2 separate regions of the Homo sapiens genome follow, and region 1 is linked to region 2. A link means that fine-mapping ties the variant in region 2 to the expression of a gene that starts in the linked region. Tissue or cell type: whole blood. Region 2 holds a variant in brackets; the other region holds the start of a gene. All regions are shown on one strand. Distances are from middle to middle.

Evidence for each region. PIP is the estimated chance that this variant, and not a neighbour inherited with it, causes the effect.
Region 1: it holds the start of ZMAT3, and the variant in region 2 is fine-mapped to the expression of ZMAT3 in whole blood (INTERVAL, PIP above 0.99).

Annotation. Positions count from the first base shown.
Region 1 is chr3:179,067,798-179,075,786 of GRCh38, forward strand. It overlaps ZMAT3 (zinc finger matrin-type 3), which reads right to left and starts at 4,012. Exons shown (of 6, transcript NM_022470.4): 1 at 3,798-4,012; 2 at 1-12. RefSeq lists silencers at 3,739-3,888, 4,029-4,438.
Region 2 is chr3:178,942,346-178,950,334 of GRCh38, forward strand. It overlaps a transcript of LOC124906307 not described here. Among named protein-coding and RNA genes, the nearest start is that of KCNMB2-AS1, 86 kb to the left of the region's middle. The variant T/C (reference allele first, on the strand shown) is at 3,514.

The DNA.
Region 1 (7,989 bases), 130 kb after region 2:
AGGTCTTCAAATCTGAATCAACAGCAAAAAAACAGAAAAAAAAACTCACTTGAAAATCAGACTTCAGCAAGATAACATGTAAATGACAACATAATCTGACCCTTTCTTCTACTTCTCCAAACCCATCTTTGGGACTTCTTTCCTTTGGCCTCATTTAGCAGACTTCCCCTGCCTGTTAATTCATGTTAACACGGTGCTCTTCCACTGAGAATGGCTTTATAGATTTGGCTTTATTTTGCTTGGCACAGTTCCAACTGCTATCCCTTTGGCCCGTGAACATTAACAGCATTGCATCCACGGCTAAATCTAAAAGTCACATGGCTGAAATGGACATCAAATGTCACCTAGTCCAGACCCCTTCCCTCAGGCACACTTACACTTAAACACTCTTAATGATAATCATGCACAGACAAAAACACCACGAGCTGTCCAGGTGTGGTGGCTCACGCCTGTAATCCCAGCATTTTGGGAGGCCAAGGTGGGCAGATCACCTGAGGTCAGGAGTTCGAGACCAGCCTGTTCAAGACAACATGGTGAAACCCCGTCTCTACTAAAAATACAAAAATTAGCCAGGTGTGGTGGCGAGTGCCTGTAATCCCAGCTACTCAGGAGGCTGAGGCAGGAGAATCGCTTGAACCGGGGAGGCAGAGGTGGTCGTGAGCCGAGATCGTGCCATTGCACTCCAGCCTGGGTGACAGAGCAAGACTGTGACTCAAAAAAAAAAAAGACCACCAGCTAAAAATCTTAGCAAACATATCTTCCAACCAACCAATATCAAAAAGAGTGTATAAAAGAATATCATCTTGCAGAATTCTTAAAGCACTTATAGAACTAGCTAAAATTTCAGGGAACTCTAGGAGTAGCCTAAAGTATGACAGAAATAAATAAAATATGTTCCTTCTGATCAACTAGCAATATTTAAGTAGTTGAGCAAATGTATAGCAGAGGTGGCAAACAGCCTGTGGGCCACATACAGCCACAGATGTGCTGTTTGGAATATACAGTTTTGTTTTCATTTTTTTAAGTCGAATTAGTTGTTAGCATTTAAAAATCAAGAGATTCATGGCTTCTCTTGAAAAAGGATGATCTGGCATCACTTGGCCCACATTCCTATATGGGACGCAATTAGCTAGTTAGTGCTCAGAGGCACTGTGCCCTCTAGCGAGGCCTGCCTTCTCTGGGACACCTCAGTCCCCACTCAGCTGCTGCCTGTACTTGTTACTTGCCTGTTCTCTGTGAGCTCTTGAGTTTACAGCCCTGCCTCATACAGCCTTAGATTATATTCATCAGCCCCTGTAAAACCCAAATTTTTCCTCCTTCTCTAGGTAAATTACCTACACAAAATAAGGTATCAAGGAAATGTCCAATGGAGTAATGGATCACACCACCATAAGCCACAGTATAATTCCAGTTCCTCAATCTTGAGGCTATTTCCCTCCTCCTTCTTAACAAATAACTGATAGTCTCTATTATAATTCCCTCAGAAAAGACCCAAAATGTTCCTCTCCCTCTTCAATCTTTATCCATAATGTCTCCTGCCTCCCCCCCAGATGGCGCCGTCTAACCCTGAGTGTCTCAAAATGAACCACAGTACACCCTTTGAGTTCCCAAGATTCTAATTAACCCAAATTAGAATCCTTATTTCAAAATCCACAATTCCCTCCACTCTCTCAATACAGTATTATTAAAACCTCTTCTCTTGGTCAATAGAATATGGCTATTTTAAGCTGCTGAAATTTTCCATCTGCAATGGAAATGTGTACATTATGGCAATAATAGAATTACTAAAATGAATCAAGTAAATTTTGAAAAGTTAAAGTCTATTTTACCATATTTGATAACTACACAGCACCTGAAAATCAAGTAACAACTTTCAGACGAAATTTGGGGTGGGGAGGCAACAAAGGAAATCAGCGTGATGGGAAAATAATGTAGTTAAGGACAAAGTGCATAAGTATTAGTCATAGAATTTAACAATACTTCTCATTAATCACAAAATTTAGAAAAATGATAATATTATTTAATTTTTAAGCAGAAGTGTACTGCCCATATCTCTGGGAACATAAAAGAAAAGCAATATAGAGTTTTAACATTTAAAAAGTCAGGTTCTCTGTAATGGTATTATTTCTCTTAATTGAATCAAGCAAAGATAGTCCAGAAAGCAAAGACAGATATGGTCATTTTAGAAAACGGAACTAAGTAGACAAAGAACAGCTTTTAAAAAGTTTAACTACCTAATAATAATAATTCATAATGTTGAAAAGCTACTGATGTCAAATTGCCACAAACATTCTGCTAGTTCATTAGTGAAAAGGTGGGGGGGGGTGTCAAAACCTCTGGATAAAGGAAATCAGCAATATAAACAGAAAATCAAATGCTACCAATTGCCTAGGCATGTCTGGACTTGTTTTATGAAAGCTCACTTTCACTTGAGGAAATTCTAGCATGTGTCTCCCCCAGTGTTATCTACAGGTTTCCCTCAAAATAAAGATCCTTCTCAAAGAACAGAGGCACAAAAGGCCTCCTACCAGAGGTGACAGTTACCTGATTTAAAGAAAAAATTCTTGCCAAACACAGATTTACCCATTATCACATTTGATCTTTACAATTTTTAAAGAGTAGCTTGATATCCCAAATTTATTTCTTGTTATATTTAACAATCAACACAATGTCGACTCCTCAAAAAAATCTATGTATGACAATTGCATCAAATATTAGTACATTTGCAAACAAAAATTAGTATAAAATATAAATCTTAAAATGAATAAAACCAAGTCTTCAGTGAATGCATGAATGATGGAATACAGAGACCCAAAACATGCAACTCAGATCTGTTCAACTGTTGCATTGGTTTAAAAGGGACTAATTTGAAGACTGGCATAAATATTCTTCAAATCTTAAAAACCAGTCACTTTGATGCTTGCGATGGCATAAATGAAGGATTTATGCTGGTTAATGTCCTGGTTTGGAAAGGAGCTAAGACGACATTAAAGAAAATCAAAGCTTCACAAGGTACCCTGTTTAAAGAAAATTAATTGTCATAGCATACTTAGTTTTAATGATTGGACTGGGGCCTACTCTTCACATACTGTGTTAAAGACAATCTCTTGTCTCATTTGGAGAAATCTACAGAGGAAAGAGAATAGAATAAAGGAACAGGTTAGGAGCACCTCAGCAAACTAGGTAAGTCTGTAATTGGGAATTCTGGAAATGAGGGAAAGGCAGCGAGCATTACTCAGAGGTCATCAGAACGCAGCAAGAAGGAATGAGAGGGAGAAAAGTTAAAAAAAATAATAATAATAATCACTTGAGGCAAGGTGTATCCTATAAAGAAGGCTCAAAAGAACGCAGAAAACTGGGGAAGAGGCCTTGGTGAATTGGCGAATGTTTTTCAGTCTCCGCTGTGACGGTTCCTAATCCTAGAGAACTGTTTACAGATTTGAATCAAAGCTACAGACAGTTCAGCGTCGCCCACATCCACCTTACATTCCTAAGATGTGCATGCATACACACGAACCCACACACGCACCTCAACCCGGTATGGATGCCATCACGAAGGATGGAATCCCCCGACTCCCACGGGGCGGGGGCAACTGAGAGGGCCAAGGCAGCTGCACGCACAGATGATCCACCTGGTCCACGTGAAATGCCTGAAACAAGCAAACTGATAAATAGAAGCAGCGCAAGCCCTGTCACGTGGAGGGCAGATGGAAAGAGCATCGGAAAGGAACCGCTAGTCCCCGGCGCTCCAGGGGCTCGTCCTGAAAGCTCCGCGGCTCCCAATCGCCCGCACTTACCGGAACCCCCGGGACGCGCCGGCAGTCTCCGCGCCGCGTCCGCCCGGGACGCCCGCGACGCCCGCCCTGCGCGCCCGGCTCGGCCCAGCTCGACCCAGCCTCTTCTCGGAGCAACTTTCTCCGCCGGCCGCCGCCGAGCCCCCTCCGCAGCCGAAGGCTGACTGTCAAAAGTCAGTCCAACCCGACCCACAGGGAAACAGCTGCAGGAAGTGACTGCGGAACCGGGAGGCGGTGGAGGAGGAGACTGAGGGCGCCGGCTCGGCGTCGCCACTGCGCATGTGCTTGGCGGAGCAGGCCCGGCAGCGGTGGCAGCGGTAGCAGTGGCGGCTCCCGCATCCCCGGCGGGCGGCGCGTGGGTCAGGTGCCCTGGCCGCGAGCGCAGGGGCGCGGGGTTAGGCCGGCGTGGGGAACAAAGGCACGAGTGAGAGGCGGGAGGGTCCCGCCGCCAATCTCAGCAGACAGCCCCGAAGAGCAGTTCAGCAGATGCCCTGGAAAGTTAATCCTTGGTAGAAGCCTGGGCAGAGCTTTTGCAACTTTCATCTCCAGTCATTGGGATCCAAACATTGTTCATTCTGTTCCTCCCTTAGCCTGCTGGTTGGCGGTTAAGGCGGCTGAGTGGATCCTTTAAACTGCTGCAACAGAACCTTTAAACTGCTGCTCTCCCCACTTCCGCCCCAGGATGGAGGAAGAAGAGCGTGGCTGCCTGCCCAGTATCGGCCTCCCTCACACAAAACGCCCCCACCCACCCACACACACACCTTCCCTCCCCTACACGAAAGTGAGCAGGAGATAGAGGAGACTTTCTCCTGACCCCCAGAGGCTCACCTGCAAGACAGGAAGGACCAGGAAAAGAGTGGCCAACGCTAGGATGTCACATCCTTCATAACCAACCTGGACATCTTCAATGTTAACACTGAGTGATGAGCTGAGGAAATTCCGGCTCTAAACTTATAGCGTAAATTAACTCGTATGAAGATCTGCTGGGGTATTATTTTTGTGTGTGGCAAACGATAACAAATATACTACTTTAAGAGTACAGGCCGGGCGCGGTGGCTCACGCCTGTAATCCCAACACTTTGGGAGGCCGAGGCGGGTGGATCACGGGGTCAGGAGATCGAGACCATCCTGGCTAACACGGTGAAACCCAATCTCTACTAAAAATACAAAAATATTAGCCAGGCGTGGTGGTGGGCGCCTGTAGTCCCAGCTACTCGGGAGGCTGAGGCAGGAGAATGGCGTGAACCCGGGAGGCGGAGCTTGCAGTGAGCCGAGATCGCGCCGCTGCACTCCAGCCTGGGTGACAGAGCGAGACTCCGTCTCAAAAAAAAAAAAAAAAAAAGTACAGTTCAGTGGCATTAAGTACATTTGCATTATTGTGTGGTTATTTTTTAAAACACGAATTAAAATGCCAAGGAGATCTAAGTATAGTAAGATGTGCCCTATTAGTAGGGAAACAACTGCAGGAAATCAAGGCTGTTTCTTTGGCTGAAAAATGCACCAATCCAATACCAACAACAACAAACCATAAAAGACTTCATAAGTACAATGAATATGAAGTACAAACATATACACACAGTGTACACCAGCCATTTGGGGAGAGTAATCCATCACCTGAATTGTTTTTCCAGCTGTATAGGTACATTTACTTTATGTGTCACTATTTTAAAGGGCTATATTGTTTCTAAAATAATAAATGCTGCTAAAATCCACTCTCCAGCCCCTTTTCTATATGGTCTTTAGCCAGTCTTAGAACTTCACAGTCCACACTCCTTATCTAGGACCACAAGTAGGCCTTGCGGAGCCTTTCCGATCTGACCTTCCACCAGTCTCCCCTCATCATTTCACTCACACCCCCATCCATGCCCCTTCATTTCCTGCCTCTGTAATTTAGCTCTGTCTGCATCTTGAATACAAAATGCTTTCTCTCCCCTCCCCTTGAATTGTCAAATCCTACCTGTCCTTCCAGGCCTCTTCTTTCATGAGGTCCCACAGCACTTTTCTCCGCACACCTTGATGACACACTATTTGTTGTCCCACATTATAATTACTTAAGAGATATTTCCTCTGCCCTGTAAATACCTTGAGTCCAGGAAGGATAAATGTCTTGGAGTTTTCAAGTTTTATGTTTGATAGTTTGATGTGTTCTTGTCCATCAGGATGAAAATCTGAACAATTCCATGTTCTCTGCTCACATACTCTTCTCAGACAGCTAGGGCATTTCCTTCCCTGCCTCGGGGAGAAAGAAAAGGCAAATCTGATGCTTGTGTAATAGATATTTGAAGCTCATGGCAGTGACAGTAGTCTCATAAGTCAGAGTTTGTAGTTTAGAATTGGCTGGACTTCATGAGTTTCAGCACATGAGGTGAAAGGAAAAAAAGCCACAAACAATATATTCATCACTTTTGCGGTTGAAAAAAAAAAAAATGGCTGATGGCCACAAAGGTTTATTTCTTATTTGTATTACATGCTGGGTCAGCTGAGGTTCTGCTCCATGGGTCTCCTCAATCCAGTGCCCAAGCTGAAGAAGCTGCCCCTATGTAGAACTTGGCAATTCTCAAGGGAGATGGGAAGAGCCAGAAAGCTGTTAGAAACTTGTGAAGCCTCTTAAAGCTGCTTCTCTAATGTCTCATGACATGTCTACTCAAATCCCATTGGCCAAGGTCTTTCATATGGCCAAACCCCAAGTAAGTGGAGAAGTCTACTTCTTTCATAGGCAAATCACATGGCAATGGGCATGGATTGTAATTTTTTTGGAGTGGGGGTTGTGTGGTTAATTGTAAACAATAATGCAATCTGCCACAAAGATGGGGGAACCAATTTTCTCTCCCCAGAGATATTGGTGTATGTCCCAAAGAAAGGCCTATAAATCCCCACCCACCCACCAGCCACACACACCCAGTCGTTGGGATTCCTTTGAAAGAAACTGTGGAGCTAGAAATAATACAATTCCCACATGTGTGAAGATCTAGAGATTGGGGGCATCTGAGCTCTATTCCCAGTGGGGATCAGAAAAGCAATCAAGGTCTAGGGTTTTGCCTCAATAAGTCAAAAGAGAGTAGGATGTTAGCCTGAACTGTTTCAGCCAGAGGAATGCCCCTAAACTTTTTTTTTTTTTTTTTTTAGTATTTATGGCATTAGAGACTATTCAAGGGAGCTGACAGCTGTAGGGGGCTGATGAGCCTACAGGTCGGAAAGGGGAAGGATAGAACTGAATGAACAGAGCACTGATCTGATAGCAGAGAAAAAATAGACATCGCCTATTGAGGTCAAAGCCAAGGCGTGTTTGCACTGATGTCTACTTCCTCTTGCCACCTGCCTCCCCACTTCACCCAACCCCACCCCAAATTTTAGGGTTATCCTCAGAAAAATAAGGGGAAGCAGATCATTTTGAAGTGAATAGATATTAGCCAGAAATGACTTGGAGACAGGAGAGATTTGTGGGTAATAGAAATACATGTAGAATTGACTAATTTGTTTCTCTCTTGAAAAAGAACAGGATCTCAACATTGAGACTAATTTTAATTACTTTTTTAAAAGCAACGTTTTTATACACTGACTTTCATGACCTGATATAGTATAACCAGTACATTTGGATGACCATAGTTGATTGCATAAATGTATGAATGAATGAGGAATTTATTTTCTGCATTCTGTAATAGGCATTATAGTGCCTGCCTATGTACTTCACTGCAATGTTTCCTTTTTTAATGTAACTATTATGTGGGAAACTCTCTGAATTTATCAGAAAGGAACTCTCATATTAAAATAAGGATAATTATTTTTCATTATGCTAGACCGTATATTGAGAAAATCTACATTTGTATTTATTTACCAAGGAGATGGTCCTAACACACTTAACTTTTGGTGGCATGGCTTTAGGTTTTGGGAATCTGTCCAGAAAGCTACATGATGTACTCACAATCAGGAGAAAAACACACATCCCTCTCCAGGGACTGATACAATTCGTCAGGTCAGATCCTCTCTTGTATGGGAGTTTGTGTCATCCTTTGAGACTCCACATACCTTTTCTTTCATAACACATAATGTCTTCCAGACCGACTTCTTTCTTTAAATCATCAGAGAATGCCTCCAACATTCATTGTCTCTCATAATAACCTCGGCTTTTCAACACAATCCTTCCTTACAATCAGAGTAAAGCAATACAAAAATCTCAAATCCAGCAAAATAGGCT
Region 2 (7,989 bases):
GCCTACAGAGGCAGGCAGGCCTCCTTGAGCTGTGGTGGGCTCCACCCAGTTCGAGCTTCCTGGCTGCTTTGTTTACCTAAGCAAGCCTGGGCAATGGCAGGCGCAAGAGTGGACATTCTTATTTTGTCCCTGATCTAAGAGGAAAACCTTCCAACTTTTTACCATTCAGAATAATATTAGCTATGGGTTTGTCATATACGGCCTTTTTTGTTTTGAGGTACATTCCTTCTATCCTAATTTGTTGACAGTTTTTATCATAAAGAGATGTTGAATTATGCCAAATGCTTTTTCTGCCTCCATTATGATGATCAAATGGTTTCTGTTCTTCATTCTCTTAATACAGCAGATCACATTTATTGATTTGCATATGTTGAACCATTCCTGCATCTCAGAGATAAATCTCACTTGATCGTGGTGAATGATTGTTTCAAAATGTTGTTAAATTCAGTTTGCTAATATTTTTTAAAGATCTTTGCATCTATGTTCATGAAGGATAATTTTCTTTTCTTGTTGTGTACTTGTCTACCTTTGGTATCAGAGTAATTCTGGCCTTGTAAAATGAACTTGCAAGTAGTCCCTCTACTTTGCTTTTTTGGAAGGGTTTCAGAAGAATTAGTATTAGGTCCTCTTTAAAAGTTTGATACGGCCTGGCACGGTGGCTCACACCTGTAATCCCAACACTTTGGGAGGCCGAGGCAGGTGGATCACGAGGTGAGGAGTTCAAGACCAGCCTGGCCAAGGTGGTGAAACCCCGTCTCTACTAAAAATACAAAAATTAGCCAGGTGTGGTGGCACATGCCTGTAATCCCAACTACTCAGGAGGCTGAGGCAAAGAATACTTAAACCCAGGAGGCAGAGATTCCAGTGAGACGGGATCGTGCTACTGCACTCCAGCCTGGGTGACAGAGTGAGACTCCATCTCAAAAAAAAAAAAAAAGCGTGGTAGAATTCAGCAATGAAGCCACCCAGTCCTGAGTTTTTCTTTGATGGTAGACTTTTTACTACTGATTCAATATTCTTACACAGTATTGGTCTCTTCAGATTTTATATTTTTTCGTGATTTAGTTTTGGTAGGTTGTATGTGTCTAAGAATTCATTCATGTCTTCTAGGTTATCCAATTGACTGACATGTAATTGTTCCAGAATTGCATAATGACATTAGCTGAGGTGAAGAATCTGTTTTCCAGCAATCAGGTCTGCCTACAGTTTTCATCCTAAGAATGGTATCTGCTTATTCAGACAGTACTCAATAAAAATAATGATGAGTATATAAGAGTATGTTGAAAATTACTGTTTTAGGAATGCTTACATCAGACTCTGACATTCAAATGTGACGGTAGATAGATCTGACAGAGAGAGGAGATATAAATCCATTTCCGTAAAATCTTCAGGTTATTTAACTTCTTGTTGCAGAACTGGAATTCCCAAGGTGATCAAGGTTTTTTATCTCTGCTCAAATCTCCAGTGTATGTGGGCAGATGTTATGACATCATTAGGTTGACTGGCTGTCAAATAAAGAAAAAATAAAACAGATCTAAACTATATCTGTTAACACCCCCAAAGCTATCTCAGAAAAGATATTTTGAGTTAAGTTTTCTTTATTTCAAGCTCTTCTCATCTGTTAAGAGTTTTGTCAAAAAGTAATTTAATAAAAGGCAGAGTCAAAATATGCTGTCAACATTTTTATTTTAAAAACTGACACAAAGGCCAGAATTTAATAACTAACATTCAAATAATGGGAGGATGGGAGTAAACAGGAGATGGATGACTTCAAAGTTTTATGAATTTCAAGATGATAAAAATCCATTGGAACAGTGCTGTCATAGGGATATTCCACCAGGAGATGTTATAAATAAAGTCTGATTTTTAGAAATATCTCATCCTTTGAATATATTAGATTCTCAATAAAAGTTTGCTGAAAAACTGAAAGTTGTGTTTTATTCAGAAAGAGATTAGCTATACTACTATAATAAATACACCCTAAAATCTTAGAGGTTAAGGCACTAAAAGTGTATTTCTTTCTCAAATCACAGTTTAATGTGTTTGGGTAGCTATTCTGGAAAGCTCTCATTCAAGTGGTGACTCAGGGATCTAGGATTCTTTCATATTGCAATTCATCATTTGAAACATGTAGCCTTCAAGAGGCCGGGGAATCAAACCCAGGGATATATGGACAGACCTAGTAGTGGTATATAGCATTCCATCCATACTCTTCTGGTTAGAACTCAGCCACATGTTTTGACCTGGGAAATATACTCTTCCTTTGTGCCCAGGAAGATAAGATGGATTTGTGTGCATGCCATATGCTGATGTGTTTACATGTTAACTAGTTTGATGATGAGCTTCCTACAACATATTATAATACCACCTTGTTTTCTTAAAGACAACAATAAACATTATACTCTCTTTTCTTCATGCCTCAAGTTCATAATTACAAGGATCACTCACTGTTCTGAGCTAATATACGGACCTGGAAGTTATGTTCCTTCTTTCCTTTCTCAGTACTCCCACTGTTAGTCAACCACATTCACACTTAGTAAAGACTCAAATGTTCAGCCTTTGCTTTTATCCCCTCCACTATCACCCAGTTCAGGTCTTCACCAACATTCTCCTGGAAGTTATCTCTGCCTTCACTCTTACCTCATCAATAGCTAATCCATCCAAAACACCACTTCCATATGAATCTTCCTATAACATGCCTCCACCACCACTGAAACAATAAACTTTTATTTTGGTAAAGTATAGTATTATTATTATTTCCCTTTATCTTTCCAATTTTTACCTCGGCAATAAAGTTGGGTGCAAACGCCTTAGCCTCCATAAACTGAGACTACCTAACTTTCAAATTTCCTTTAATATTCCATTTCAGCCACCTGTGTTGCATTTCCTTCTCCCTGACATTGGTCATCTAATTCTTCCTGTCTGAGATGCCCTCAGCATTTTCTGTGACTGTCTATATTCTAAATATCCTTCAACATTCTGTTCTAGTCTCACTTTCTGTATTAGTTAAGTAACATAAGCTCTATGACAGAAAAACACCAAAATCTCAATGGTTTATGTATTGGTCCATTCTCGCACTGCTATAAAGAAGTAACTGAGACTGGGTAATTTATAAAGAAAAGAGGTTTAATTGGCTCATGGTTTCACAAGCTGTACAGGAAGCATGATGCTGGCATCTGCTTGGCTTCCTGGGGGGCCTCAGGAAACTTAACCATGGTGGAAGGTAAAGGGGAAGCAGGCACGTCTTACATGTCAGGAGCAGGACCAAGTGAGAGATGGGGGAGGTGCCACACACTTTTAAACAACTAGATCTCTCAAGCATTTACTATCACTAGAGCAGCACATGGGGGAAATCTGGCCCCATGATCCAGTCACCTTCCACCAGGTCCCACCTCCAACATTGGGGATTACAATTCGCCATGAGATTTGGGTGGGGACACAGATCCAAACTGTATCTGTTTAACACAATTGAAGTTTATTTCTTGCTCTCATAAAGTCTAAACTGGGTATTCC[T/C]GTTAGTCAGGTGGCTCTCCTCCAACTGGTGATTCAGGAACCCAGGCACCCCGGCTCTTCCATCTGATGGCTCTGCTATCTTTAACCCTTGGCTTCCAATGTCACTGCTGCACAAAGAGAAAGTGTATGGAGGAACATGCATGAGAGGACCTCATGAATTAGGCCTGGAAATGGCACAGGGCATGGCTAATATTCCATTAGCTAGAACTCATTCACGTGGCCACATCTAAGATGGCAAGGGAAGTTGTGGGCCCAGGGATAAGATGAAATAGTTTTGATAAAAAGCTATCAGTATCTGTTGTACTTGCTTGTGATTCCTTTCCACACCAATCCAACTTTCCATAATTCCTCCTTCCTCTGAACTTTTCTAGTACTTTCCAATATCATATAGGCTGTAGTAACTTGGGTATTTTTTTTGACACATTTTCTTTCTACGTCAACCAAACTTTAGGGCAGAATCTGTGCTAAATATTTCTTAGTATCTCCCGCAATTACAACAGCGCCCAGCACACCCTAAGAGTTCAATAAATATTAACTGATGAGAAAGGTAATAATGTCCATACAAGTATGCAGAGTCAGTTCTCCATACACAAAATGGCCCCACACTGCTATGAAGTTCTTGGTCCACACTTTTGGTTTTTCTTTCTCTTGCCTTATCATCAGAATTTAGCTACTGCTTTGCATTGCCTTAAGCATGTTTGCTGCTTCTATTCAGCCACCCTTACTCTACTTATAATTTACTGTCTGTAATTACTATACAGGGTTTTTGAATCTTAACAATTGGATTCTTTCTACAAATAAAATCGCCCATGGAACTCCAATAAAGGGAACAAACAACAGCAGAACTGTTGAGATGGTGGCAGGGAGGGGCACATTCTTACTTAGCAGCTGCCTGGCCCCAAAGAGATACTCAGGAAACATGTCTCCCTTCCTATCCTATCCTTGTCTCAGTATTACTGTGTGTTCATTGATAAGCACTTCAATAGGCAAACTCATCTGAGAGTTCTTATTAATGGCACGAAACCTATTAATTTTGTCAGCAGTTCAACCTTACGCTATCCCAATAAGATAAGAAAGGAAAGAGTGAGGAAGAGGCAACAGGAGAGGAAAAGAGTTTTGAAAGCTTTTTGGATAAGAAAGTTGATAGTTGTCACAAAGATTTCCCAAACTTTTCAATGACATTCCATTTTTTCCCATGAAAATTTTCCATCTCGAGTAGCTCACGAAGCCTCTTCTTCATTAAGTGCCACTTAAGGATGAAATATATGTATACAAATATATATATTCATCTTACATACATCATATATATTCATCATATATAATCTGCTTCAAAATGTCTTTATGAAGAACAAATGTGACTAGTCATAAATGTTCATTCAAACAAGAAGCACAAACATCTCTTTCTAAAATGAATCTGGAATGGAGTCTGATATGGTTTGGCTCTGTGTCCGCACCCAAATCTCATATTGAATTGTACTCCCATAATTCCCATGTGTTGTGAGAGGGACCCAGTGGGAGATAATTTGAATCATGGGGGTGGTTTCCTCCATACTGTTCTCATGGTAGTGAATAAGTCCCACAAGATCTGATGGGTACCAAGGGTTTCCACTTTTGCTTCCTCATTTTCTCTTGCTGCCACCATGTAAGAAGTGCCTTTCACCTCCCACCATAATTCTGAGGCCTCCCCAGCCATGTGGAACTGTTGAGTCCAATTAAATCTCTTTTTCTTCCCAGTCTCAGGTATGTCTTTATCAGCAGCAAGAAAACAGACTAATATAGAGTCATATATCTTTTAAACAAAAAAATTAATAATTTACATGCTAAAAGGTATAAGAGTTAGTTCAATTATTTCCAGTCGTTAAAACCTATGGGCTCAGTGAAAAGTTCCATGTGCCAACATCAATATTATTGTATATGTTAAAGTTTATAATGGTTGTAATTTTGAATTAATTCCTGTTCCCCTGGGGCACCATTTTATTGTCACCTTTGATTAAAGTCACTTCAATTAAGTGTTAACTGAATATAGTTTGAAACAAAGTAGAACAAAGTTTCTTTAAGCCACACTGACCCCTAGAGACAGAGGGATTACAAAAATGTTCCAGTAAAACCAAAATCCACTTTCACAAAATTAGTGCAAATATAATAAAAGAATTTATTTTTTGGCATAAGTATGGACTATCCTTTCCTCTCCATGCTATACTCCACTGACTAAGCCTACTGCATTTCATGTTATTAAAATTTCACTGCAAAGATAAGAAGAAAGAGGCAAAGAGAAATAATTTAAAGCTAAACAGAAAAATGTATGGAATGGAAAAGTCTTTAAACTTTGCATTCAGAAATCTGAGTTCTGATTCTATTTCTCCCACATATAACCTATGTAACCTTGGGCAAGCCACCTTCCTCCCTAAGGCTTCACTTTCCCCATCAGTTAAATAAGGATTTGACCCAAATTCTCTGATTCTCTATGCTAAATGCAAACTAAGAAATTCTAACAATTTATTTTCTAATCTGAAAAAAAACCTAAATCACCATTTTTAGAAAACATCCTCTATTATTGACTCAATACAATCATGCATCACTTAACAAAGGGGATATGCTCTGAGAAATATGAACATAATATGTACTTACACAAACCTAGATGGGGAAGCCTACTACATACCTAGGATATATGGTACAACCTATTACTCCTAAGCTACAAATCTATACAGCAAGTTACTATACTGAATACTCTAGGCAATTGTAACACAATGGTAAGAATTTGTGTATATAACATATCTAAATATAAGAAAGGTACAGTAAAAATACAGCATAAAAGATAAAAAGTGGTACACCTGTATAGAGCACTTACTGTGAATGGAGTTTGCAGGACTGGAAGCTGCTCTGGGTGAGTCAGTGAGTGAGTGAGTGTTGAGTGAATGTGAAAGCCTAGGACATTACTGTACACTACTGTAGACTTTATAAACACTGTACACTTAGACTACACTAAATTTATTTTCTTAATTTTATAATAAACCAATCTTAGCTTTCTATAACTTTTATTTTTTTAATTTTTTGACTCTTTTATATAACACAGCTTAAAACATGAACATATTGTACAGCTATACAAAAATATCTCATGTCCTCATATCCTTATTCTGTAAGTCATCTTCTATATTTAAATTGTTTATTTTTTTTTATGTTTCAAACTTTTCTTGTTAAAAACTAAGACATAAACACACACATTAGCCTAGGCCTACACAGGTTCAGGATTATCACTATCGCTGTCTTCCACCGCCATGTCTTTTCCCACTGAAAGGTCTTCAGGGGCAATAACACACATGAAGCTGTCATCTCCTATGATAACAATGCCTTTTTCTGGAATACCTCCTAAAGGACCTGCCTAAGGCTGTTGTACACCTAACTTTTTTTACACGTAGAGGAAGTGCATTCTAAAATAGTGGCCAGGCACGGTGATTGATGCCTGTAATCCCAACACTTTGGGATGCTAAAATAGGATGATTGCATGAGCCCAGGAGCTGGAGATCAGCCTGGCCAACATAGCAAGACCCCATCTCCACAAAAATTAAAAAATTAGCCAGGCAGTAGGATTGCTTGAGCTCAGGAGTTTGAGGCTGCAGCGAGTCATGATCATGCCACTGCACTCCAGCCTGGGACACAGAGTGAGACCCTGTCGCAAAAAACAAAAATCAAAACAATAAAATAATAATAAAAAGTATAGCATAATTAAATACACAAACCAGTAACACAGTCATTGACATGGTTTGGCTGTGTCCCCACCCAAATCTCATCTTGAACTGTAGCTTCCACAGTCCCCATTTGTCATGGGAGGGACCTGGTGGGAGGTAATCGAATCATGCAGGTAGATTTTTCCTGTGATGTTCTCATGATAGTGAATAGGTCTCACAAGATCTGATGGTGTACAAAGGGCAGTTCCCCTGCACCTCTCTCGTCTTCTGCCATGTAAGACACGCCTTGGCTTCTTCTTCACCATCTGCCATGATTGTGAGGCCTCCACAGCCATGTGGAACTGTGAGTCCAGTAAACCCCTTTCCTTTATAAATTACCCAGACTCAGGTACGTCTTTATTAGCAGCATGAGAACGGACTAATACAGTCATTTATTTATCAAGTATGATGTACCGTACATAATTGTATGTGCTAGACTTTTATACAACTGCTAGAGCAGCCAGTTTATTTACATCAGCATCACCACAAACATATGAGTCACACATGGCACTAAAACATTAGGATGGCTATGACATCACTAGCCAATGGGAATTTTTCAGCTTCATTATAATCTTATAAGAACATTGTTGAAAACATCATTGTATGGCACATGACTGTAGTTAGACTGGTCCATGTAGTATATTACTGGCAAAGATTATTGCATTCATTTCTTAGGGTTACTTTAACAAAGTTCCACAAACTATGTGTCTTACAGAAACAGAAATTTATTTTCTCACAGTTACGGAGGCTA